Linked DNA regions of Homo sapiens: all the other regions are reported to be linked to region 2. The links are microRNA targets in miRTarBase. Many come from high-throughput screens and were not tested one by one. Region 2 holds a microRNA gene; each other region holds the end of a gene's coding sequence.
Evidence for each region. Region 2 holds the annotated microRNA hsa-miR-519e-3p (AAGUGCCUCCUUUUAGAGUGUU, at 4,118-4,139, opposite strand). A microRNA usually pairs through its seed, bases 2 to 8, with sites in the 3' UTR of a target mRNA and lowers its output. Matches are read on the target gene's strand: a 7mer-m8 pairs with bases 2 to 8, a 7mer-A1 pairs with bases 2 to 7 and ends in A, and an 8mer does both.

Region 1: miRTarBase lists APLN as a target of hsa-miR-519e-3p. Seed matches in the 3' UTR shown: 7mer-m8 at 3,735-3,741.
Region 3: miRTarBase lists LMBRD2 as a target of hsa-miR-519e-3p. Seed matches in the 3' UTR shown: 7mer-m8 at 4,988-4,994.

What each region holds. Positions count from the first base shown.
Region 1 is chrX:129,643,000-129,650,434 of GRCh38, reverse strand. APLN (apelin) reads left to right here. Exons shown (of 3, transcript NM_017413.5): 2 at 1,643-1,814; 3 at 2,518-5,176. The coding sequence ends at 1,809. Among named protein-coding and RNA genes, the nearest start is that of APLN, 8.2 kb to the left of the region's middle. RefSeq lists enhancers at 1-481, 482-983.
Region 2 is chr19:53,676,695-53,684,129 of GRCh38, reverse strand. MIR519E (microRNA 519e) reads right to left here and starts at 4,190; the gene lies at 4,107-4,190. It overlaps MIR515-1 (microRNA 515-1), which reads right to left and starts at 5,127; the gene lies at 5,045-5,127. MIR520F (microRNA 520f) reads right to left here and starts at 1,971; the gene lies at 1,885-1,971. The region is part of intron 2 of LOC107985342 (a long non-coding RNA gene); the gene reads right to left. RefSeq lists an enhancer at 5,935-6,435.
Region 3 is chr5:36,098,933-36,106,367 of GRCh38, forward strand. LMBRD2 (LMBR1 domain containing 2) reads right to left here. Exons shown (of 18, transcript NM_001007527.2): 17 at 6,136-6,265; 18 at 1-5,174. The coding sequence ends at 5,114. Among named protein-coding and RNA genes, the nearest start is that of UGT3A2, 36 kb to the left of the region's middle.

The sequences.
Region 1 (7,435 bases), not on the chromosome of region 2:
GGGGAGAACTGCAGGCTCAGAAGCCTGGGGGAAGAGGGCCCTAAGGCCAAACCCACCCACTTTTGGCCCAAGAGGAGGCTGAACACTTGGAAATTGTGTGCAAGCAGAGGAGGACTCACAAAAACCAAGGAGCCAAGGAAGGAACAGAGCGTGGGGATGTTGGAGGCAGAGGCAGAGGGGAAGGGGGAGCTGCCAGGGGTATGATTGGGGTGTGAGCAGCCAATGGGAGGCTCTATGGAAACTGTGAGCAAGTGGTGGGAATTCCTGGGTAGATGGCAATGGGGCTCGAGGGACAGGGATCTAGATGCAGGCAAATCAGATGGTGTGCAGGGGGAGAGAGACTGTTATTCATTATCTCTGGCCTCAGATGCTGTATCTGCACAGGCCTGTACTGGACATTGCACAAGTACCCTGCCTGGCTGCCTCTTCCCCAGCACCATCTCATCTCCACACACTGCCTGCCACCACCAGCCAGGCTTGTCTTGGGGGTGGCAGCTCAGCTTCCCTGCATGGACTGCAGGCTTCACGAGAGTCGGCCTGCATGCCTTTTCCCTCACTGCACCCAAGGATACCCTGCACCACTTGGATTCCATTGTCAGGGCTCAGTCTGGTGTCAGGAGGCCTCTACTCTAAGCCTCCTGACAGATGTGGACAGATGTAAAGAGGAGCCCCAGAGTGCAGAATAGAAGCCAGCTGGGATTGAAATGGAAGGAATTTACATGAGACACAGGATGCAGGGTGTGATCTGGGAATTTCAGGAGGTAGGGCATTGGTGGGGAGGTACCAACTGCAACAGCCCACCCCCCTCCTGGTGCACAGACATGCTGCTGAAGGTGACCATTGTTTCATTTATTCATTCTCAAATATTCATGCAATATTTATTGGTCTCTAAATCTGGTCTCAGGTCTCTAAATCTGGTCACAGCATGAGGCAGGCTGAGTCAGAGACCTCTCCCCCTTAACCCGCCTGGCCCAGCCCCATCCACTGGGAGGACTTGGCGCCCTAGAGATGCCTAACCACCGATGAGACACCCAGGGGCGAGATATGAGCTCCCTAGTACTCACAAGTGGGTCATCCTGCATATCAAAGGATGTAGGAGTACAATGACGTGATGTTCGGGATTTGCTTTAAAATACTGCAGTCAAGGAAAATAGAAAAGGGATAACTAAAGCATATGTGACTCCATCTGGATAACTGTTGAATCTGGGTGATGGGTCCATGGCGGTGGGAGGGTCATTGTAATGTCATATGTCTGAAATGTTTGAAGTGTACCAGTTGCAGGGGTGCCGTGGTGATTACTGCCTCCTGCCCCCCAGCCAAGTACAGGCGTGACAACCCAAAGTGCACACCCCCCAATGACGTTCCAAAGAAAGAACCCACTTGTGCCTGTCAGAAACATGATATAACTGTCAAAAGGACAGAAAGTCAGCTACATCAATGGCAAGATGTGAGTAGTAGGTTCCGTTTGTCCCAGGACAGTGCAGAAATGGCAAATTTTCCCTCAATATGAAAAAAAGAAACAAAGAAAATCTATGAGAAGTGCCACCACATGGACAGACCACCCCTCCCGCGGGCCTGTGGTCTGCAGCCCCTGCCCGTTTCCAACAACCTTCCTCACTAACAGGCTTTCTCCTTCCTGCAGGGTCCCTGATGCCGCTTCCCGATGGGAATGGGCTGGAAGACGGCAATGTCCGCCACCTGGTGCAGCCCAGAGGGTCAAGGAATGGGCCAGGGCCCTGGCAGGGAGGTCGGAGGAAATTCCGCCGCCAGCGGCCCCGCCTCTCCCATAAGGGACCCATGCCTTTCTGAAGCAGGTACTTGAGCCTCTGTTCAGTGGACAGTGCTAAAGCGGAGGGAGAAGGACAGCCTAGAAGCCGGGTGATCCTGCCGCTCATCACTGGCCAGACACATCCATCAAACAGTCCTGGCGCCACACTCACAGAGGCTTAGAGCTGGCAAGAGAGCTTATGGGGCAGCTGTCTAGCCCCTTTATTTTACAGACGATCTCCTCGTCTGAGGCCTAGAGAGGGGCTTGATACTTGGGGCCAGTCTCCCTTCCACCCTGCTGCCTGGGGTTGGGGAGGCTGGCCTGCTTAGAGATTTCTAGACATCCTGGTGGACCTTAATGGCTGGGGAGGGGTGCCCAGGGCAAACCTACAGATGTCCAGTGTAGATTGTCGCCAGAGTTGGGGAAGGAGGCAGAGAGCTCTAGGGGCTCTCAGGCAGAGAACAAGAGGACAGTTGTGGCTGTGGTTGCCCGGAGCTGTGAGAAGGAGGGAAGAACCAAGGTGGCAGCAGAGAGAGGAGAGCTGAAGCCTGCCCCTTCCCTGGTCTGCTGGCTGTCCCACTGCAGTGGGGACAGGCAGGCACCAACTCAGGGGCCTTGGGATTGAGGTTTGGGCTGAGTGGAGTTTGGGGGAAAGAGAAGGCGGTCTCCTCTCTCCTCTCCTTTCCTGGGGAGTTCCTTTGGCCTAGGATATGTCCATGACTTCTCTCTTGTCATTTTTGTCTCCTTAGGACTGAAGGGGCCCCCAAGTGCCCACCCCCGGCGGTTATGTCTCCTCCATAGATTGGTCTGCTTCTCTGGAGGCCTCACGTCCATTCAGCTCTCACCTCGCACCTGCTGTAGCCACCAGTGGGCCCAGCTCTTCTCACCTGCCTGCTTCCCCCAGTGGCGTGCTCCTGGCTGTAGTTTGGATGATTCCCGTTCTCTCACAAGAATCCGTCCAGTCCATCTTCCTGGCCCCTCCCTGGACTGACTTTGGAGACCTAGCCCCAGAAAGCCTCCCTTCTTCTCCAGGTCCCCTCCGCCCTAGTCCCTGCCTGTCTCATCTAACGCCCCAAACCTTCATTTGGGCCTTCCTTCCTCATGTCTGCCCTGAGCGCGGGGTGGAAGTGCTCCCTTCTGTGGGCTCCAGCAGATCCCTTGTTTTCCTGTCAGTTGGACCCCTCACCTGGCCTCCAGGGAAGAATGCAGAGAAAAGCAAGGAGAGACTCTAGTTAAGAGGTGCTGGCTGCGGGGATCCAGACAGGGCACATTGGGGGCATGGAAGTGCCAGGGTGGTTTTCAGGAGCTCTGGTGAAGTGGGTGGAGCATCAGCGTTTGCTCAGTTAAGGGAGAGGTAGAGAGGGGCCCGTGAAGTCCTTTGTCACTTCTCTTGCCTTAGTGTGCCTCCCAATACTCCCTTCTTCCTGCCCCCACACCCCATCCCCAGCTAGCCCAAGCTCCAGGTCAGGAGGGGAGGGTGCTGGGCCTGACATGGCTATATACCCTCCCAGGAGTAAAAGCCAAGCAAGAGGTTGTTTTTGCCAAGAATCACAGAATGTTAGAGCTGACAGGACCCTTGAAGGTCACTTAGCCTTCTTAGGCAAACGCCTGCAAAACAGAAGCCTGGAGAGGGGAGTGACCTGCTCAGAGTCATTGCAGAGCCGGGATGGGGACCAGGTCTCCCATCTCCTACTTTATGACGCCCTCTTCCCTCTTGATGATGTCTTTTCAAAGCAAATGAAGTGCCTTTTCCCGAGGCTGGGGCTGGGGGTGGCTGGGAGGGGAAGGGAAGGGAGAGGCAAGCTGGCTGTGAACTGTCCTGTTGTGGGGCTGGAGCTGCTCCCACCTCCCTGACCTACCCCTGCTGCACCATTCCCCCAGCTGGGCTGGAAGGTTCCATAACTGGCCAGCTGCCCCCATAACTGGCAGCATTCCCAGACCCAGGGTACTCTAATAGGGGCGGCTCAGGCACTGAGACTACCGCTCAACCCCAGGGTGGTTTTCAGGAGTCCGAGGTAGCCTTCAATCACTGGACTCCATGGCCTTCCCTTCGTGTTGACCGGACCTTCCTTCCAGGGCTTTTCCTTTGGGGGAGGCGGAGAGGGGAGAAGAAGGAAGGGAAGGGCAGAAGGAAGGAGGGAAGAAAAGAAAGCAAAGGAACAGAAGGAAGGAAAGAAAGATGGGAGGAAGTGCAGCAGGAATAGCACCCTCTCCCCGGGAGGCCCTAGCTTCCGTGAGGGGCCATCACCAGCCATTCCTTGGAGGGGGCTTTCTCCCCTTTTGCTTGAGCAGGGTTCCCAGGAGGGAGAAAGAGAAGACAAGAGCCTGATGCCCAACTTTGTGTGTGTGGGGACGGGGGAGTCAGGGCCCCCCAAGTCCCACAATAGCCCCAATGTTTGCCTATCCACCTCCCCCAAGCCCCTTTACCTATGCTGCTGCTAACGCTGCTGCTGCTGCTGCTGCTGCTTAAAGGCTCATGCTTGGAGTGGGGACTGGTCGGTGCCCAGAAAGTCTCTTCTGCCACTGACGCCCCCATCAGGGATTGGGCCTTCTTTCCCCCTTCCTTTCTGTGTCTCCTGCCTCATCGGCCTGCCATGACCTGCAGCCAAGCCCAGCCCCGTGGGGAAGGGGAGAAAGTGGGGGATGGCTAAGAAAGCTGGGAGATAGGGAACAGAAGAGGGTAGTGGGTGGGCTAGGGGGGCTGCCTTATTTAAAGTGGTTGTTTATGATTCTTATACTAATTTATACAAAGATATTAAGGCCCTGTTCATTAAGAAATTGTTCCCTTCCCCTGTGTTCAATGTTTGTAAAGATTGTTCTGTGTAAATATGTCTTTATAATAAACAGTTAAAAGCTGACAGTTCGCCCTTACTCTTGGAGGTCATGTTCAGGAGGGGCATTCCTTTCCCCTGGGGGTCATGGGTGTCCCCATGCCCACATATTGCACGTGCAGGGAGGTAAGTGCCTGCATCCCAAATCGGTTCTAGGTCAACTGGCCTCAAACTGATTTGCCATGAGCTCACAAAATGAATCCCTATGCTTAATGACCAGGTCACATAAAATCCAGCCCACTTACAGGTTTTCTGGCATCTGTTTGGGTGTCCTAATTTTTTTGGCAGTGTCATTTGAAGAATTTTTTTAAAGCAGTTTATTTAAGAACATACTGATTAAATGCAGGATCGCTACTAAAAATTGTTTTGTATCCTTGGTGGGTGTCTTCTGCTATTTTATCTACTTTTGAACACTTTCAGGACTTTTTAGCCAGTTTGCCTTTCTTGAAAAATGTTATGTTTTCAGCAATAAATACATTTGATAATGACTTTGTTTGTATCATTTTATGTTTCACAAAGTAGAGTTGCTTGATGAATGAGATAGCCTGAAAAATAAAATGCAAAGAGTTCAATATAATTCTGCCCCATCTGTCTCATCACTTCACGTTTGTTGTCAAAATGCCAATATCTTGCAGAACAGAAGGGAACATTGGGTACATGCTAATTTGGTTAATAAACCCATTAGGTGCACACAGGAATACACAGTACAGAGCAAAACTCAGTGAGAAGCAGAGAGGAGGGATCAAAATGGGTTCATTTGATAAATCTCGTGGGAAATCCTATAGATTTGACAAGTATTTAGTGCTAGAAATATACAATTTTAAAGAAAGGGTCTTCAAACAAACTCCCTAAAAAGTCATAAAAATGATCAATAGGAGAGAAAAATAGAAAAAGTCACCCACAAGCATACAAAACAATCTCATTATTGACAAAATGCTGCAAGTTGTGATAGTGATTTAAAAATGCAATGTTACGGCTGGGAGCGGTGGCTCACACCTGTAATCCCAGCACTTTGGGAGGCCGAGGCAGGCAGATCACTTGAGGTCAGGAGTTTGAGACCAGCATGGCCAACATGGTGAAACTCCGTCTCTACTGAAAATACAAAAATTAGCTGGGTATGGTGGCAGGTGCCTGTAATCCCAGCTACTCGGGAGGTTGAGGCAGGAGAATTGCTTGAACACAGGATGTGAAGGTTGCAGTGAGCCGAGATCACACCACTGTACTCCAGCCTGGGTGACAGAGCCAGACTCCATCTCAAAAAAAAAAAAAAAAAAAGTGATGTTACATTGGAAGTGCCTCTTAGGAAAACTGGTGCAAAATGCCTTATTTTAAAATTACTAGTTTGACTTTTAGGCAAACAGGTGGAACTGGTTTTAAGCAGAGGTTTCAGGTGGACTGGCTTTATGCTGATTAGTCTGTTACCTGCCTAATCATCCCCAAAGTTCTAAATTCACGTGAAAGCAAGGAGAAGGGAGTGGGGCATGGGGCAGGACAACTTAATACTGACCCATAAGGGTACAGTGAATTAGATAAGTGAATCTAGAATCTGGTCTTCAAATTCCAGAATGCAAACTCTTTCTACAGTACTACAGAAGGTCCCCTAACTAGAAAGAAGAATTAGGTACAATTTGATATTCTTTTTTTTTTTTTTTTTCCGAGACACAGTCTTGCTCTGTCTCCCAGGCTGGAGGGAAGGTAGTGGCGCAATCTCGGCTCACTGCAACCTCCACCTCCTGGGTTCAAATGTTTCTCCTGCCTCACCCTCCCAAGAAGCTGGGATTACATGCACCCATCACCATGCCTGGGTAATTTTTTGTATTTTTATTTATTTATTTATTTTTATTATTATTATTATTTTTAGTAGAGACAGGGTTTCACCAGGTTAGCCAGGCTAGTCTTGAGCTCCTGACCCGAAGTAATCCGCCTGCCTTGGCTTCCCAAAGTGCTGGGATTACAAGCATGAGCCACCATGCCCAGCTATGTTTGTTATTCTTAGTAAGTACAATACAAACTCATAGTACAAGAGGGCACAGTGTGGACTGGTGGGATCAGGGAAAGCTAATAGAGGCTGAGTGATAAAAACAGGCCCTAGAAGGCACAATAGCATTTGGTTAAGTTGGTGAAAGGATGATGGGCAGAGACGGCGGGGACAAGGAAGGGGGAGCAGCCACCAGGGTCTATGGAACCTACGTAGTCAACTGGATACTATTGGGTGGATCCAAGTGTGACCTCCTTGGGGCAGGGGATAAGGAAAAGAAAGTTGGTGGCTTCTGTAAAGATAATTAGACCTCAAACCAAAAGAAGGCTGAACATATGATATGCGTTGCTACTACCCTTTGGAGATATCTAGACCAAATAAATACAACAGAAGCAGAGTAGGGCATTGCTTTTCAAAATGCAGAGCTTAGGAAAAGAAATAGGAGTTCACTTAACTGATTGTTTCTGGACCGGAGGTCCTGAACTGAGAGGTTGACGAGTGGGGGCAGAGAATCTGAAAACCAACACTCTTTCAAATCCATCCGGAATTAGGCAGCCTCTGAAATGACAGAGATTAGGGAGGCAAACAGACTCAGACCACACACAGCTTTTCAGGACCCCAGGTGTGGTGTAAAATGAGCCATAACTGCTTAGAAATCTAACATTTCAGACTCTTCTGTAGGCCTAGCTGGCTTGGTACCCCCTGTAGGGGCTGGGCTCCTCCGTATTGAGGGAACCATGAGGCCTGGCCTGAGCAGCCATTCTGAAGTCCTTATAGAATTCGATTCTCCAAGCCTAAAGGTTACTCAACTGAAATTTCTCAATCCAAAGTTTCTTTCTGACCAGAGTGTGCCTGTGC
Region 2 (7,435 bases):
AGTGCTGAGACGACATGCCTGAGCTACCGTGCCTGGCCTGCAGACAGCTATTCCAGAGGCTGCGGTGGGGCATGGGCCAAGACTGCAACACTGCACTGCAGCCTGGGTGACAGAGCCAGACCTTGTCTCATAACACACACACACACACACACACACACACACACACACACACACGAAGGAAAAAAAACCCAAAGTGATACAAGAGTATTCTGTGTGTGTAGAAGAGTGTTTTGTGTTAATCATTATATTATCTATAGAAGATGATATGATAAAATGTGTATCATATATAAGACACTGCCCCCAGAAAAGGAAGTTCTATATACTGAATGCTCACACGAAGAGTAATTTCTCCACCTAAGTGCCTTCTCTGGCAGCATATGTTAAAAAAAAAAAAAAATGACAGCGATTCCCACGTCCCCTGCACAAAGTGACACCCAAATTCATGATGGTCCCATATTTAAAATTAGAAAAAACAAATGCCGACACCCACAGCCAATCATTTCTACTTCAAGTACATCTCAAGTATACTGTTAATCTGAAATACAAATTTAACCAGGTTTCCCTGCTCTGGGAAGCCCCCTTTGGTAATTCAGATAAGGGTCTCCTTTGGAAGGTAATGGGTAAGGAACATGGAGATGTCAGCCAAGGGAAGTGACTCTCAGGGATTTCTATGGATTATGCAGACGCCCAGCCAGATCCCAAACTTCCCCAAAAGATCCCAAGTCCAGGCAGGAAGGACCACTGGGCTCCAGAAACCAAATGAAGTGGCCCTGGGCAGGAGTCTCTGTTGTCAGATTCCATGACTAAGACAGCCAGGGAGCAGAGTGAAAATCCCAGGGGCTCTCTCTCCCAGAAGACACCTGCTCCATCCAGATCAAACCCAAAATGTCCCCAGAGAATGATGCCTGCTTCTCCTTTCCCCTCGGCTCATCCTGCCTGCATCGGTGCAGTGCCCTGACGTTCCCAGCCCAGAGGCCTTCACTCCTTCCAGTGCCCCAGGAGGGTCACCTTGCAGTTCTCAGGGAGGAAGATGGGGTCTTCCACCCTTGTGAGCTTCCCAGACATCAGGGTCTGCCCGCCCCACTCCATTCCCAAAGGATGTTCCGCCCAGTTCTCCCAGCCTCCTGCTTCCCTCCAGGGACCACCCTTCAGTGGTAAGATTCACATTGCAGACAACCAGGACCAACCCATTATCCTCAACTGGACACCCATACAAGATTGGTCTACGTGACCGGCCTACAAGAGGCAGATCCAGAGCTAGAGAGATGGGGAGTCGTTGCCACGGTCTGGGTGGAAGAGGTGGGTGGGTACTGACTGCAAATGAGTATAAGCCTCTTCGGGGTGATGAAAATCTTCCAAAACTAGAGTGGTGGTGGCTGCAAACAAGCTAAAATCCACATCTCAGAGTTCATCTCAAAAGATTAGTTTCTCGGCCGGGCGCGGTGGCTCACGCCTATAATCCCAGCACTTTGGGAGGCCGAGGCGGGCGGATCACGAGGTTAGAAGATCGAGACCATCCTGGCTAACACGGTGAAACCCCGTCTCTACTGAAAATGCAAAAAATACAAAAATTAGATGGGCGTGGTTGCACGCACCTGTGATCCCAGCTACTCAGGAGGCTGAGGTTTCAGTGAGCCAAGATAGTGCCACTGCATTGCTGAGACACACAGTGAGACTCCCTGTCAAACAAACAAACAAACAAACAAAAACGACCGGAGCCCAAGAAATGTAGGTTGAAGTGTCACCGCACTCCAGCCTGGGCAACAGGGACCTTGTCTTGGAATACAACAAAACAAAAGCAAAACCCCACCATCATCCAAGTCTGATGATAAGCACGCTCTGCAAATATTTTACCAAGATCAGCATCAACTTCAACATTGCTTTTCCCAAACGGTAACCCTCTAAAAGGAAGCACTTGCTTTTCTTTCTGACCACAGAAAGCGCTTCCCTTTAGAGGGTCACAGCCTGAGATCCTCTTGCTCCAGCACCGTGGATTTTTTGTGGGAATCTTCCTTGACCAGGTTTAAATGGACACAAAAATAAAGATGCATTTATTGGGGCCGGGCGCAGTGGCTCATGCCTGTAATCCCAGCACTTTGGGAGGCCGAGGCGGGCAGATCACGAGGTCAGGAGATCAAGACCATCCTGGCTAACAGGGTGAAACCCCGCCTCTACTAAAAATACAAAAAATTAGCCTAGCGTGGTGGTGGGCACCTGTAGCCCCAGCTACTTGGAAAGCTGAGGCAGGAGAATGGCGTGAACCCAGGAGGCTGAGCTTGCAGTGAGCCAAGATTGTGCCACTGCACTCCAGCCTGGGTGACAGAACGAGACTCCATCTCAAAAACAAAACAAAACAAAACAAAAAGATGCATTTATTGGCCCTGTTTGCATGTTTTCTGGAATCCAGAACATAAACCCCTAAAAGGACCATCTCCAGTCCTTTGCTTCAAAGAATCAGCAGGTTAGCCTTGTTCATCAAGGGGCAATCCTCCTGAGTTCTGTCCCCAAAGAGAAAAAGCAATGCCTACCACATATACCTTATATTTAACCATGAGAATTGAGCTGGATTTCTAGAGAACAGCAATGGATTTTGAGCCAAGTGTTCACTCGAGTTCCAGCACAGGGACACACAGTCCCGATGGGAGCATCCAAAATGGAATCTACTATGTTCAAGAATATACACTGTCTCACACACAAACATCCTGCAGGATAGACCACAGGGTATGCTGTATAAGCTCCTCAATAAATACAGAAATACACAAGTATGGGTGGGGCGTGGTGGCTCACACCAATAAACCCAGCACTTAAAGAGGGCAAGGCAGGAGGATCACTTGAGCTCAGGAGTTCGAGCTCAACCAGCATGGGTAATATGGTGAAACCTTATGCACAAAAAATAGAAAAGTTAGCTGGGTGTGGTGGTGCGCACCTGTAGACAAGTACTCAGGAGGCTGAGGTGGCAGGTGGAGGTTGCAGTAAGTCGACATGGCACCACTGCACTCCAGCCTGGGTGATAAAGCTAGACCTTGTCTCAAAACAAAACAAACAAACAAACAAGAAAAACACAGAAAGAAACAAGTAAATAAATACCCAAAGTGATACAAGAGTATTCTCCGTGTGTAGAACAGGGTTTGGTGTACATATGACTACATTATATACATGATAAGACTATATGATTAAATATACATCATATATTGTTGAGACCCTGTCTATGAAAAAAAAAAAAAAGAATATACTGTTTGCTCACATTAAAAATAACTCCTCACCGGGTGCGGTGGCTCATGCCTGTAATCCCAGCAGTTTGGGAGGCCGAGGCAGGTGGATTAGTTGAGGTCAGGAGTTTGAGACCAGCCGGACCAACATGGCAAAACCCCGATTCTACCAAAAGGACAAAAATTAGCCGGGGTGGCGGCATGCACCTGAAATCCCAGCTACTCAGGAGGCTGAGGCAGGAGAATCGCTTGAACCCGGAAGGCGTAGGTTGCAGTGAGCCGAGATCATGCCACTGCACTCCAGCCTGGGCGACAAGAATGAGACTCCATCTCAAACAAACAAACAAACAAACAAACAAAATTCCTACACACAAGTGCTTGCTTTGGCAGCACAAAAAAATACAAATAATAATTAAAAAAAAAAAAAAAAACACCCTGCAGTCCGAGCAGGGTGGCTCATGCCTGTAATCCCACCACTTTGGAAAGCAGAGGCGGGCAGATCACCTGAGGTCAGGAGTTCAAGACTAACCTGGCCAATGTGGTGAAACTCCATCTCTGCTAAAAATACAAAAATTAGCCAGGCGTGGTGGCACGTGCCTATAATACCAGCTACTTGGGAGGCCGAGGTTGCAGTGAGCAGAGAATGTGTCACTGCCTGCCCGCCTGGCCCACATAGTGAGACTCTGTCTCAAGAACAAAAACAACAAAAAAAGTAGGGGGGACCAACTAGCCTAAGAGGTCTAGGTTGGAAGCGCCACCGCACTCCTGCCCGGGCAACAGAAACCCTGTGTTGCAAAAAAACTAAACAAAAACAGAACCCCAACATCATGCAAGTCTGATGATAAGCACGCTCTGCAAATGCGTTACCAAGATCAGCATCAACTTCAACGTGGTTTTTCTCAAACAGTAACACTCTAAAAGGAGGCACTTTGTTTTCTTTCAAACAGAAAGTGCTCCCTTTTGGAGAATGACTGCATGAGATCTTCTCGCTCCAAAACTCTGGGTTTTTGTTGGAATTTTCCTTACCAGGTTAAAATGGACACAAAAATAAAGATGCATTCATTGTCCCTGTTTGCATGTTTTCTGGAATCCAGAACATAAACCCCTAAAAGGACCATCTCCAGTTCCTTGCTTCAAAGGCTCAGCAGGTTAGCCTTGTTCACGAAGGGGCAACCCTCCTGAGTATTGTCTCCAAAGAGAAAAAGCAAAGCCTACCACACATACCTTATATTTAACCAAGAGAATTGGGCTGGATTTCTAGAGAACAGCAATGGATTTTGAGCCATGTGTTCACTTGAGTTCCAGCACAGGGACACACAGTCCCGATGGGAGCAACCAAAATGGAATCTAAGATGATATTTAAGAATATACGTTGTGGGCCAGGCACAGTGGCTCATGCCTGTAATCCCAGCACTTTGCGAGGCCGAGGCAGGTGGATCACCTAAGGTCAGGAGTTCAAGACTAATCTGGCCATCATGATGAAACTCCGTCTCTGCTAAAAATACAAAAATTAGCCAGGCGTGGTGGCATGTGCCTGTAATACCAGCTACTCGGGAGGCAGAGGTTGCAGTGAGCAGAGAACATACCACTGCACTCCAGCCTGGGCCACAGAGAGAGACTGTCTCAAGAGAAAAAAAAGGGGGAGGGGGTGGGGGCAGGGACCAACTGAGCCCAAGAGGTCTAGGTTGGAAGTGTCACCGCACTCCAGCCTGGGCAAGAGACCCTGTGTTGCAAAAAAACTAAACAAAAACAGAACCCCAACATCATGCAAGTCTGATGATAAGCACGCTCTGCAAATGTGTTACCAAGATCAGCATCAACTTCAACGTGGTTTTTCTCAAACAGTAACGCTCCAAAAGAAGGCACTCTGCTTTCAGACAACAGAAAGTGCTTTCTTTTGGAGAATGACTGCATGAGATCTTCTCACTCCAAAACTCTGGGTTTTTTGTTGGAATTTACCTTACCAGATTAAAATGAACACAAAAATAAAGATGCATTCATTGGCCAGGCGCGGTGGCTCACGCCTGGAATCCCAACACTTTGGGAGGCTGGTCAAGAGACCACGACCATCCTGGCCAACATGGTGAAACTCCGTCTCTACTAAAAATACAACCATTTGCCGCCTGTGGTGGCATGTACCTGTAGTCCCAGCTACTCGGGAGGCTGAGGCAGGGGAATTACTTGAACCAGGAGGCAGAAGTTGCAGTGAGCCGAGATCGTGCCACTGCACTCCAGACTGGCAAGAGTAAGACTCCATCTCAAAAAAAAATAAAAATAAAAATAAAAAAGGTGCATTCATTGCCCCTGTTTGCATGTTTTATGGAATCCAGAACATAAACCCCTGAAAGGACCATCTCCAGTTCCTTGCTTCAAAGGCTTAGCAGGTTAGCCTTGTTCATCAAGGGGCAATCCTCCTGAGTTTTGTCCCCAAAGAGAAAAAGCAATGCCTACCACACATACCTTATCTTTAACCAAGAGAATTGGGCTGGATTTCTAAGGATGTTGAGCCAGTGTTCACTTGAGTTCCAGCACAGAAACACACAGTCCTGATGGGAACATCCAAAATGGAATCTAAGATAATGTTTAAGAATATACATTGTTGTACACACAAATACCCTCCAGGACAGACCACAGGCTAGGCCGTAAAAGCTCCTCAGTAAGATTTGACAGAGCTGGGGGGAAAAAAAGAATGTACATTGTCACACACACGAACATTCTTCAGGATAGACCACAGGCTAGGCTGTAAAACCTCAATAATTTTTTTTCTTGGAGACTAAGTTAGGAAAAACAAATGCCCACACCTAAACAACCAATCATTTCTAGTTCAAGTACATCTCAAGTATACTGTTGACCTGAAATAGAAAGTTAACCGGGTTTCCCTGCTCTGGGAAGCCCCCTTTGGTAATTCAGTTAAGGGTCTCCTTTGGAAGGTAATGGGTAGGAACATGGAGATGTCAGCCAAGGGAAGTGACTCTCAGGGATTTCTATGGATTATGCAGATGCCCTGCCAGATCCCAAACTTCCCCAAAAGATCCTAAGTCCAGGCAGGAAGGACCACTGGGGTCCAGAAACCAAATGAAGTGGCCCTGGGCAGGAGTCTCTGTTGTCAGATTCCATGACTAAGACAGCCAGGGAGCAGAGTGAAAATCCCAGGGGCTCTCTCTCCAGGAGACACCTGCTCCATCCAGATCAAACCCAAAATGTCCCCAGCCAGTGATGCCTGGCTCTCCTTTCCCCTCGGCTCATCCTGCCTGCATCGGTGCAGTGCCCTGACGTTCCCAGTCCAGAGGGTGGAGGTTGCAGTGAGGGGAGATCACAGACTGTCAGAGCCTTCCTCTCTCCTTGCCTATGCATGGGTTAATATTCACCTGAAGTCCCAGCTACTAGGGTACGCATAGGAGCACAGCCCAGTTTAGTCTGGGTGACACAGTGAGACCCCCATCTCTAAAATTTAAAAATTAAATCAAATGTGCAATTTTTTGACCTGTTCATGCACACTACATTTCGGCTGCATTTACCCAATAAAAACTCAGAGCCCATGCACTCCACCTCCGTGCGCTTGCTAAGCAGTGCACATCCCATCAGCAAGGGACACTGAGGTCCCCTCCAACTCTACCTCAACCCAAGAGGTGTTCTATAAAGCAGTGCAGGCAGAACTTCCATGGAGTAAGAGGTGTTAAGGGCTGGACGAACAGGCATCGCTCACTGTGGCAACAACAAGAGCTGCTGAACATCCCACCTGTTACTAGAGAGACCCTTCTAGGGTTCTAAAGGACCCTATTTTTGCGAAAATATCTGTGGTTTTGTCTCATGTGACATTTGTCACTGTGATTGAGATGGATTTTCTTTACAATAGTTTATATTAGGCACAGCAAACATTTTAGATCTTGCCAAGCAACCTGTATTCAGAGGCGAGGTTTTGCCTGTTGGAATGGTACATTGGAACCGCTACCCACAGGAAACAGGATAAATGGTCCAGCTGTAGTCAAAAGAACTCACTAGGGTTGTTGGCATTAGTGGTTGAGGGTTGAATCAACTATAAGCTTCTCACAGAGGAAGCAGGTCTATTCTGAGAAATGATGGTAAGCTGTTAGGAAGGAAAAATTTTCAGTGTCAGGGACAAGTAGATTAAAATAAAAAGACAAATGAACAGGAAAAAAAAAATCCCCATTGGGGACTGCAGAACAAGACTGGACAGGCCGGGCGTGGTGGCTCTCGTCTGTAAT
Region 3 (7,435 bases), not on the chromosome of region 2:
CCACAGTAACATTTTGAAAAATTATGATCATATGCACATTTGAAAAGATTAATTTTCTATTTCACCTAATCAACTGAATTGGATAAAGGCAAAATAACAAGTATTTTATTAATGCAATGCAGAAATTAGGTTTTTGGTATATTAATAATTTGCTTGTGTATTGGTATATATAAAAATCACTGACGGGATCTAGGAGTATTTCAAGCTCACACTGGACTACTGAACTTTAGAATACTGTCCTAAGGAAATAGGTCTGGGCAGAACTTATTTGAGATAGATTTTAAAACTATTTAAAAGCAATACTACAATTAGTTACTTACAAAAACATTTATAAAAATTAAATATCAGAAAGTGAGAACATCAATATTAGAGCTCTGTTGTATCATTCAATGTTATAATTTATAAATACATATTAATTTAAAACACAGGTCCACATATTTTCTACCTTCTAAAATAAGAAAAATCCTTCGAGTTGTTTTCAAAATATGAACAAAAACAAATCCATTGGATTGCTTTTAAAAAATATATACACAGTCTCTCCCCTACAACTTGGTATGCTAAGTACGGAAGATGCTTGCCAGCATTGTTGAGAAATGCAGTTCCAAATTAGTAGGCTAATAACATTTATGTCAATATCAACTCTAAATGGTGTTGTACAGTCAGTTTAAATAAATTATGATTTTACCCTACATATGTCTGCAATAGTAAATCATTCTTTCTACTCTTTTGAACTAAGTACAGTAAAATTCTTTCACAAAATAATCTGAGATCAAGATAACCAAAAAAGGAAATATTTTCAGTGAAAAAAAGTTAATTTTTCCCAAGGAGTGTGTAAAAAATAAATGTCTTTTAGGATATTGATGAGAAGAGGAACATGCCAATATCCTTGCTTTATTAACAGATTTAAAATTTACAGTGAGTCCTCAATTGACCTCAATGGACCAATGGCTTGGTACAGAAGGAATCAGAGGCGAGGACATGTTCCTGCTGCAGTGGGAAGTAAGACAGAGCAGGACTACGGCCTGCCCTACTGGAGGAAATTGCTCCTAGGGCCTTGTCTCCAGGAGTTGGGAAAGGGGAAAGAAAACATTGCCCAGTCTTCCAAGTCTCTGGGCAAAAAGTCACTGAGTTGGAAAGAAGTACCTCATACAGATGGGAATTCATATTTTAGAAGGCCTTCTGTAACCTTCTTATATTGTTTCAACGCTCCTAAGAAAAGTTTTGATGATGTATGTTATTAATTCCTTTTCATAAAAAGATGTCTCAAGAATCTAAATAAATCTTAAATTTTGGGGGGGAAATCTATTTTTATGTAAAAATATTACACTGAAAACAATTTATTTACTGATGTGTCCTCTTTAGTGACCTAAAAGATACACTGAGCCAGCATACTTTACATTTGTATTCAGATGTTGCTTAGTTGTCTAGCAAAATCTGTTTGACTACTTTAGGTACAATATTGCTATTTCAAGTAGTGGGATTTGTAGTCAGAACTAGTTCCTTCTGAGCGTACCACTCATCAAAAACAACTCTGTACACAAAACAGAAGGAAAATCTTTCAGCACATTAAAAGTCATGCTATAAACATAGGCCTCAGAAAGGAAGAAAGGTATAAAGGAATGAGAGAGGACATAAGAAAAGAAAGACAAAACCCTAAATCCACTTACTTCTTAACATTTAGAATTCAATACAATCCATTACATTTGATGATTCAAGTACGCTAAGATTTTTCAGGGACATATTTTGTCGCTTAGTGCAAATATACTTGTAATTTTTAGGCATAATCCACTCAAATCACAAGTAAGAAACTCACCTTACTAAACAGGTGAATTATAATATGGAGAGTTTATTTTTTCTCTAATATGGTAATCAGCACACCAGCAAGAACATTCCCTAAACCTATTAATAAGAATGAGGTTTGTAACTGAATGTAAATTAAATTGCTCCATTAATATGCTAAAATATACTTTTAAAAAACCACACACATTGACTTTCCTATGCTAATTTAATTTGGGCATACATGCAGCTTAAATTTCAGAACTGATCATCTAATCAAATAGTAGTCCAAAAAAATCAACTGGCAGAATGTTTTTTTGAATGTCTGGATTGTCAAATTTTCTGATCTATTCTTTATAAAGGGAAAACCCTTGAATCTTTTGATTTAGTTCTTACCATTTCTGTGAAATGAGGGCCTCTTATGCAATGAGATTATTCAAAAGCCCTTGTATTCATTTGGTAAGAGAGCAAATTTTAATAATTAAACTTATTCTTTCTTTTGTTTTTTACAAAAATGCTCTATTGATAACAAGTTATTTATGTTGTAAAAGAAGTTAATTAGTAATTTAGAGGTGATTCATTAAATTAATAGATTATTATTATTTTCTACAATAGTTATTCTGAATTACTGGCTTACTGAATATTCTTACCTAACAACTATTTAAAGAATAATTTGGAAAATTTTAAACTAATACTTATTATCAAGTAATAAAGTCATCAAAAATTACCAGAAATAATTCTTTAAGAAATGTACTTTGCATGTAAAGTATATGTATTTAGTAGTCCTATTTTGCAGTAGATGTCATTATATTTCAATAAGCTTCTCAAAAGAGAAAACTTCTACCCATTACAGTTTTTTACACAGGGTGGCTTGACAAATATTAACTTGGTTCCCCAGCAATAAACTGAGTCTTCCAGGGTCAAGTCATTGCCTTCTGAACTCAAATTTATCCAACAAAATAACATTTTTATATGATTGTATATAACATTCTGTAAGACAAATTCTGCTTAAAGTTGAATATTCTGAATCACTGAAACAACCAAATATTTTAAATATAACTTGAAAGTCATAAAGGAATCTATACCGGTTGTGAAGTGTATGCACGTATACACTTCAATTATTATAACCATAAAAAATTTAATACTAAAGGAAAGTGGTAACATTACCTTACACGTTCCTACCAATTTATCTTAGGGCATTATAAAAGTTAGTTATAAAAGTAATTGGCTAATTTCTTTTCCTTTTCTGCTTCTGTTTCAACAACAGCATCTTAATTTCATGACAAAACCTGATGAGAAACATTATACTTAAGAAATTATTCCAAAGTAAACCCAAAGACTAAATAAAACAACACTACTTTCACAGGACTTTTGATGAATTAGTCCAAAAGCGTTTTTGCTTTAAGTACTTGTAAACTTTTCTGTAATAATAAGAAACTGGACCCATTTCTGGGATGATCATTTCCCCATCCAATACCTTCAAGTATCACTAGGAAAAATAGCACAGTTATAAACTCCAGTACATAAACACCAATTCAACTTCCTCACAATGGCTTTGTAAGGTAGATCAGCAGGTAAATAGCAAGTATCATCTTCATTCTGCAAATGAAAGTGCAGAATGAAGCACTTGAGGCACTGAAGAGCTACATGATTTGCCAAAGGTATTCAATTAGTCAATCATTAAATTACAAAGAGGATCAAATTATCTCTGCTCCTGGCTTATTGCTTTCTGGCCACACTTCACATGAAAAGACTGTATGTGTGTGTTCTTAAGTGTAGTCTATATGACCTTCAATTCAGAGTAAGTCTATCCACTGATAATTATTTTAAAAGGGATCTAATTGCAAAGATCATAAAAACTCAAAGATCAAAATTTTCAGATAATGAGGATGATGCTCTATTCCTTTCAATATCTGCATAGAGCTGTGTTTTAAAAAAAAACTTACATGATAATATTTATTAAAAATAAAAATAAAAATTTTAAATTTATGTCTTGGGGAAAGATTAACTTCAAGTTAGGGGAACCATATAATTCATCTTCAAACTGGGTGGGATACTTGAGGGTGAAAGTAATCACTAGTAATAAACAGGATACTAGGTGTTACACTGAGACTGTATTAGGCAAGCTGAAGTATGGTCACCAAATGTAGCATGGATTCAGTAAGAGTTGCAAATATTCTAGGGACATAAGAAAACTCTCTGCAAGCATGCTGCAATCAAACATGTTCACTTTTCAATAAAACACTAGTGCTTTAAAATATAATACATAAATTTATCTTAAACACAAAGGTTAAAAACAGTCTATTTAGTAAGAATGTTTAACCAACAAGTTATTACACATTTCCATTCTAATATAGTTTTGTTTTCTATAAACCACGATTTAAGTATCAGTAATAACAGTAAATGGATTCACTTTTTACCTTTGAATAACCAGTTTTTTTCTCAAAAAGTATAAGCAGGTACCTTTAAATACTGAAGGATTTTGTTGGACTCTTTGACTACTTAAAAAAAAACTATTTTTCATTAATGCCTAGGATTTATCCTTGAATATCATAATCAACATTTAAATCAATATGTTAAATGATAAATGTGAACATAGCTTTCTGAAATGAAAATCTTTTATAAAGCAATACCAGAAGCATAAAAAAATCCAGTTACTACAAAGACTGAAGGAATACTATATCACCTGATTATAGTACACATGCTAAATACACAGACACGCATCACTTGAAGTATAATCTTAATCTTATACATGCAAAAATCCCCCACGAGTTTGCAAACAGATTTGAAAAAGCACTTTTTACATTCAGTTATGTCTAGTAAGTAAGCCTTGTTTTAAGACACGAGTTTTATGAATACAGTTATTATTTGAGGTCTCCATTCACTTACATTTCTTTGGGAAATACAGGTTGAATATACTTTTTAGAAGTAACAAAAATGTAAGTCACAATAACAAAACTGTATATAATATTATTTAGTATGACTTATGGCTTCCTTGAATCTTTAAAATAACTCTCTTGAAAAAAAATTAATCTGAAACAAACTGAACTGCATGTTCTTAACATATGTTGATCTTTCTTAAAGTCCTTCCACTGTAACTGTATTTCTAAGGCAGATGCTTAGGAAATGATATGTAATAAATCTTGTTGAAAAAGGTGATACTCTATTCAATGCACATTAAACTATTATTCCTAAGATATAATTAATTCTCAGTGCCTTTTTTGTTATCTTGACACTTTTCACTGTGTATAGAGGAAATTCTAGGGTACACAGATGTTCATCAAGACTGAACTGATGTGTTGACCTTGGTTAGTGGTCCCACAAACTTTTTCAGACTTTAAACATCATTAAATATGTCACTGCGAGACATCGAGAGATATCGTCCACCAGGCTGATACCTAAAAAGGGAACATAAAGAAATGATCTGAGGCATCAAAAATAATAAAGGAAGAGAGGAAAACAAGAATACATTAAAAGGGAGTGGCCATATAATTTGTAAGTACTGTAAAATCTAGTCAGTAGCTGAAAGCAGAAACTTACCCTCCAAGTATATTATCCAAAAGGACTTAATTATAAATCAACCAGCAACGGTTTTAGACCCTAGAATATATGCATGACAGAGTGAGAGATGTAAAAAGAAGGGGGCAGGGGATGTAAGACACATCTGGGAGATTAATCAATTCAATAACCACTCTCAATTGTTGCAAATAAATATAACCTAGGTTTTTACTGCATATAGGCAATACTATAGTAAACATTTTCGTGCACATGATATTTTGCTTTTATTTAATTATGTGCTTATAGCATAATGGCTAAAAGTACAGACTCTGTAGCCAGAATACTGGACTTTGAATGCCTGACTTGCCATTTACAAGTTGTGTGACTCTGGGCACTTTACTGAGCCTCTCTGGATTTAAATCCAGCTGAATTTGCAACCATACAATTACAATATTTTTGCTAAAGGACTTAGAATAGTGTCTGGCATCTAGACACTGCTATGCAGCAGTTACTAAATATAATAAATTTCACAAATGGGACAATCAGAAATAGGCATATAAATATTGTTGTGATCCTTTGCTATATATTTCAATTATTCTTTCTTATTTATAATACCACTAGTATTGTATGAAGATAACAATTTTAGTTACCATTACTGGATGATATAAAAGCATTAGAAAGTCTAAAAAGGTATCAAAAGTTACTTAATATATTTTTTATTGTTAGTGAAAATGAACATTTTCCTTTACTTATCACTTGTTTACTTTCACCTTTACTTACTTATTTTCAATCTTGTCAAGTCAATGTGTTATTAAAAGTGTAGAGGAATGCTAGAGCTAAAATGTCACAGCCAGAACTTACCTTCCTGATTCAGATTCAAGAGGATCATCAGTGAATGTTTCTGCATTAAAATCCAAAGGTTCTGCATCTTGGAGAAGTTCTATCCGGTCCCTTTCAGTCCTGTTATTAGCCCTGGTATATTTGAATGCAGCTGCAAAGGAAGGGGGAAAAATGTCTACTTCCCTACTGTCTTTTAACTTATGGGTCACAGTCTATGGAGGTACAGAAAGAAAAATCAAAATTCCAAGGAATCTGAAGACAAAGAACATAAGAAAAGATAACTACATGGTTCCTTAAAATCAGATTAAAATTATAAGCAGTATAATAGAATATAGCAAGGAAAAGTTCTCTAGGCTTGTAGTTAGCTAAGAAGCTCTCTAAGCTCAGAAGCAGACACAGTGCAAACATTTCATTAGTGTAACTCAGAATTAACATTTAACTATGGTATCACAATGGTGAAACTGTTTATTAACAAAAGTAGTTTGAGTTGGTTTTACAGTAAACCTCATTTCTTGGCTAGGACTTTAATGTGTAATCAGCTCAAACTCTTAAAAAAAGGTGTGTCTTTTTACCATAAGGCAAGAGTATGGGTAGCACTAGCCAACATCGGCACTAGCCGATATTTAATTAGAAATTTTCTAGTAGCTATATTAAAAAGTAAAAAGAAACAAGTGAAATTAATTTTAATATATTTAAACACAATATATCCAAAATATTACCATTTCAACATGTTGCAAGTGCTCAATAGCCACGTGTGGCTAATGATTATCATACCAGACAGCAGATAAAGAAAACTAACTCTCCCTTCTCTATGTGGATAGGGATTTCTATATAAACAAACCAAATTTTCACAATGTTGTTCAGAGGAGTCCAAGTAGATTTACAACAGCTTTATGCTATAGTTCTTTCTGAAAACTTAATGCAAGCCAATTCTATCATATTTACATTTTTGTAAGCTTGGACTCTGTCCCAAATGCAAATCTCTTCATCTTTTCTCTCACTCATTCAGCAAATCGCAATTGCCCAATACATGCTAGATTCTCTCTAATTCATCATCCTATGACTTTGTGACTCCTCTTCTTTTAAGCACTCTCCCGTCTTGCCAGGTCTTTCTATTCTGTAAACTTCTTCCACTCTATGGTAAGCAAGCATCCAAATCCCTTTACAGAATCCTATTTCCTAGTTTTAACTAAGCCTTTAGCCCTTTCCTATTTATTATACCCTAAAGTCCTTCAAATAAATCCTTTTCTCTTCATCTCCAGGACAACTGCCTTATTTTAGACCATAATCATTTCTTGACTGTATTACCAAACAGTCTCTG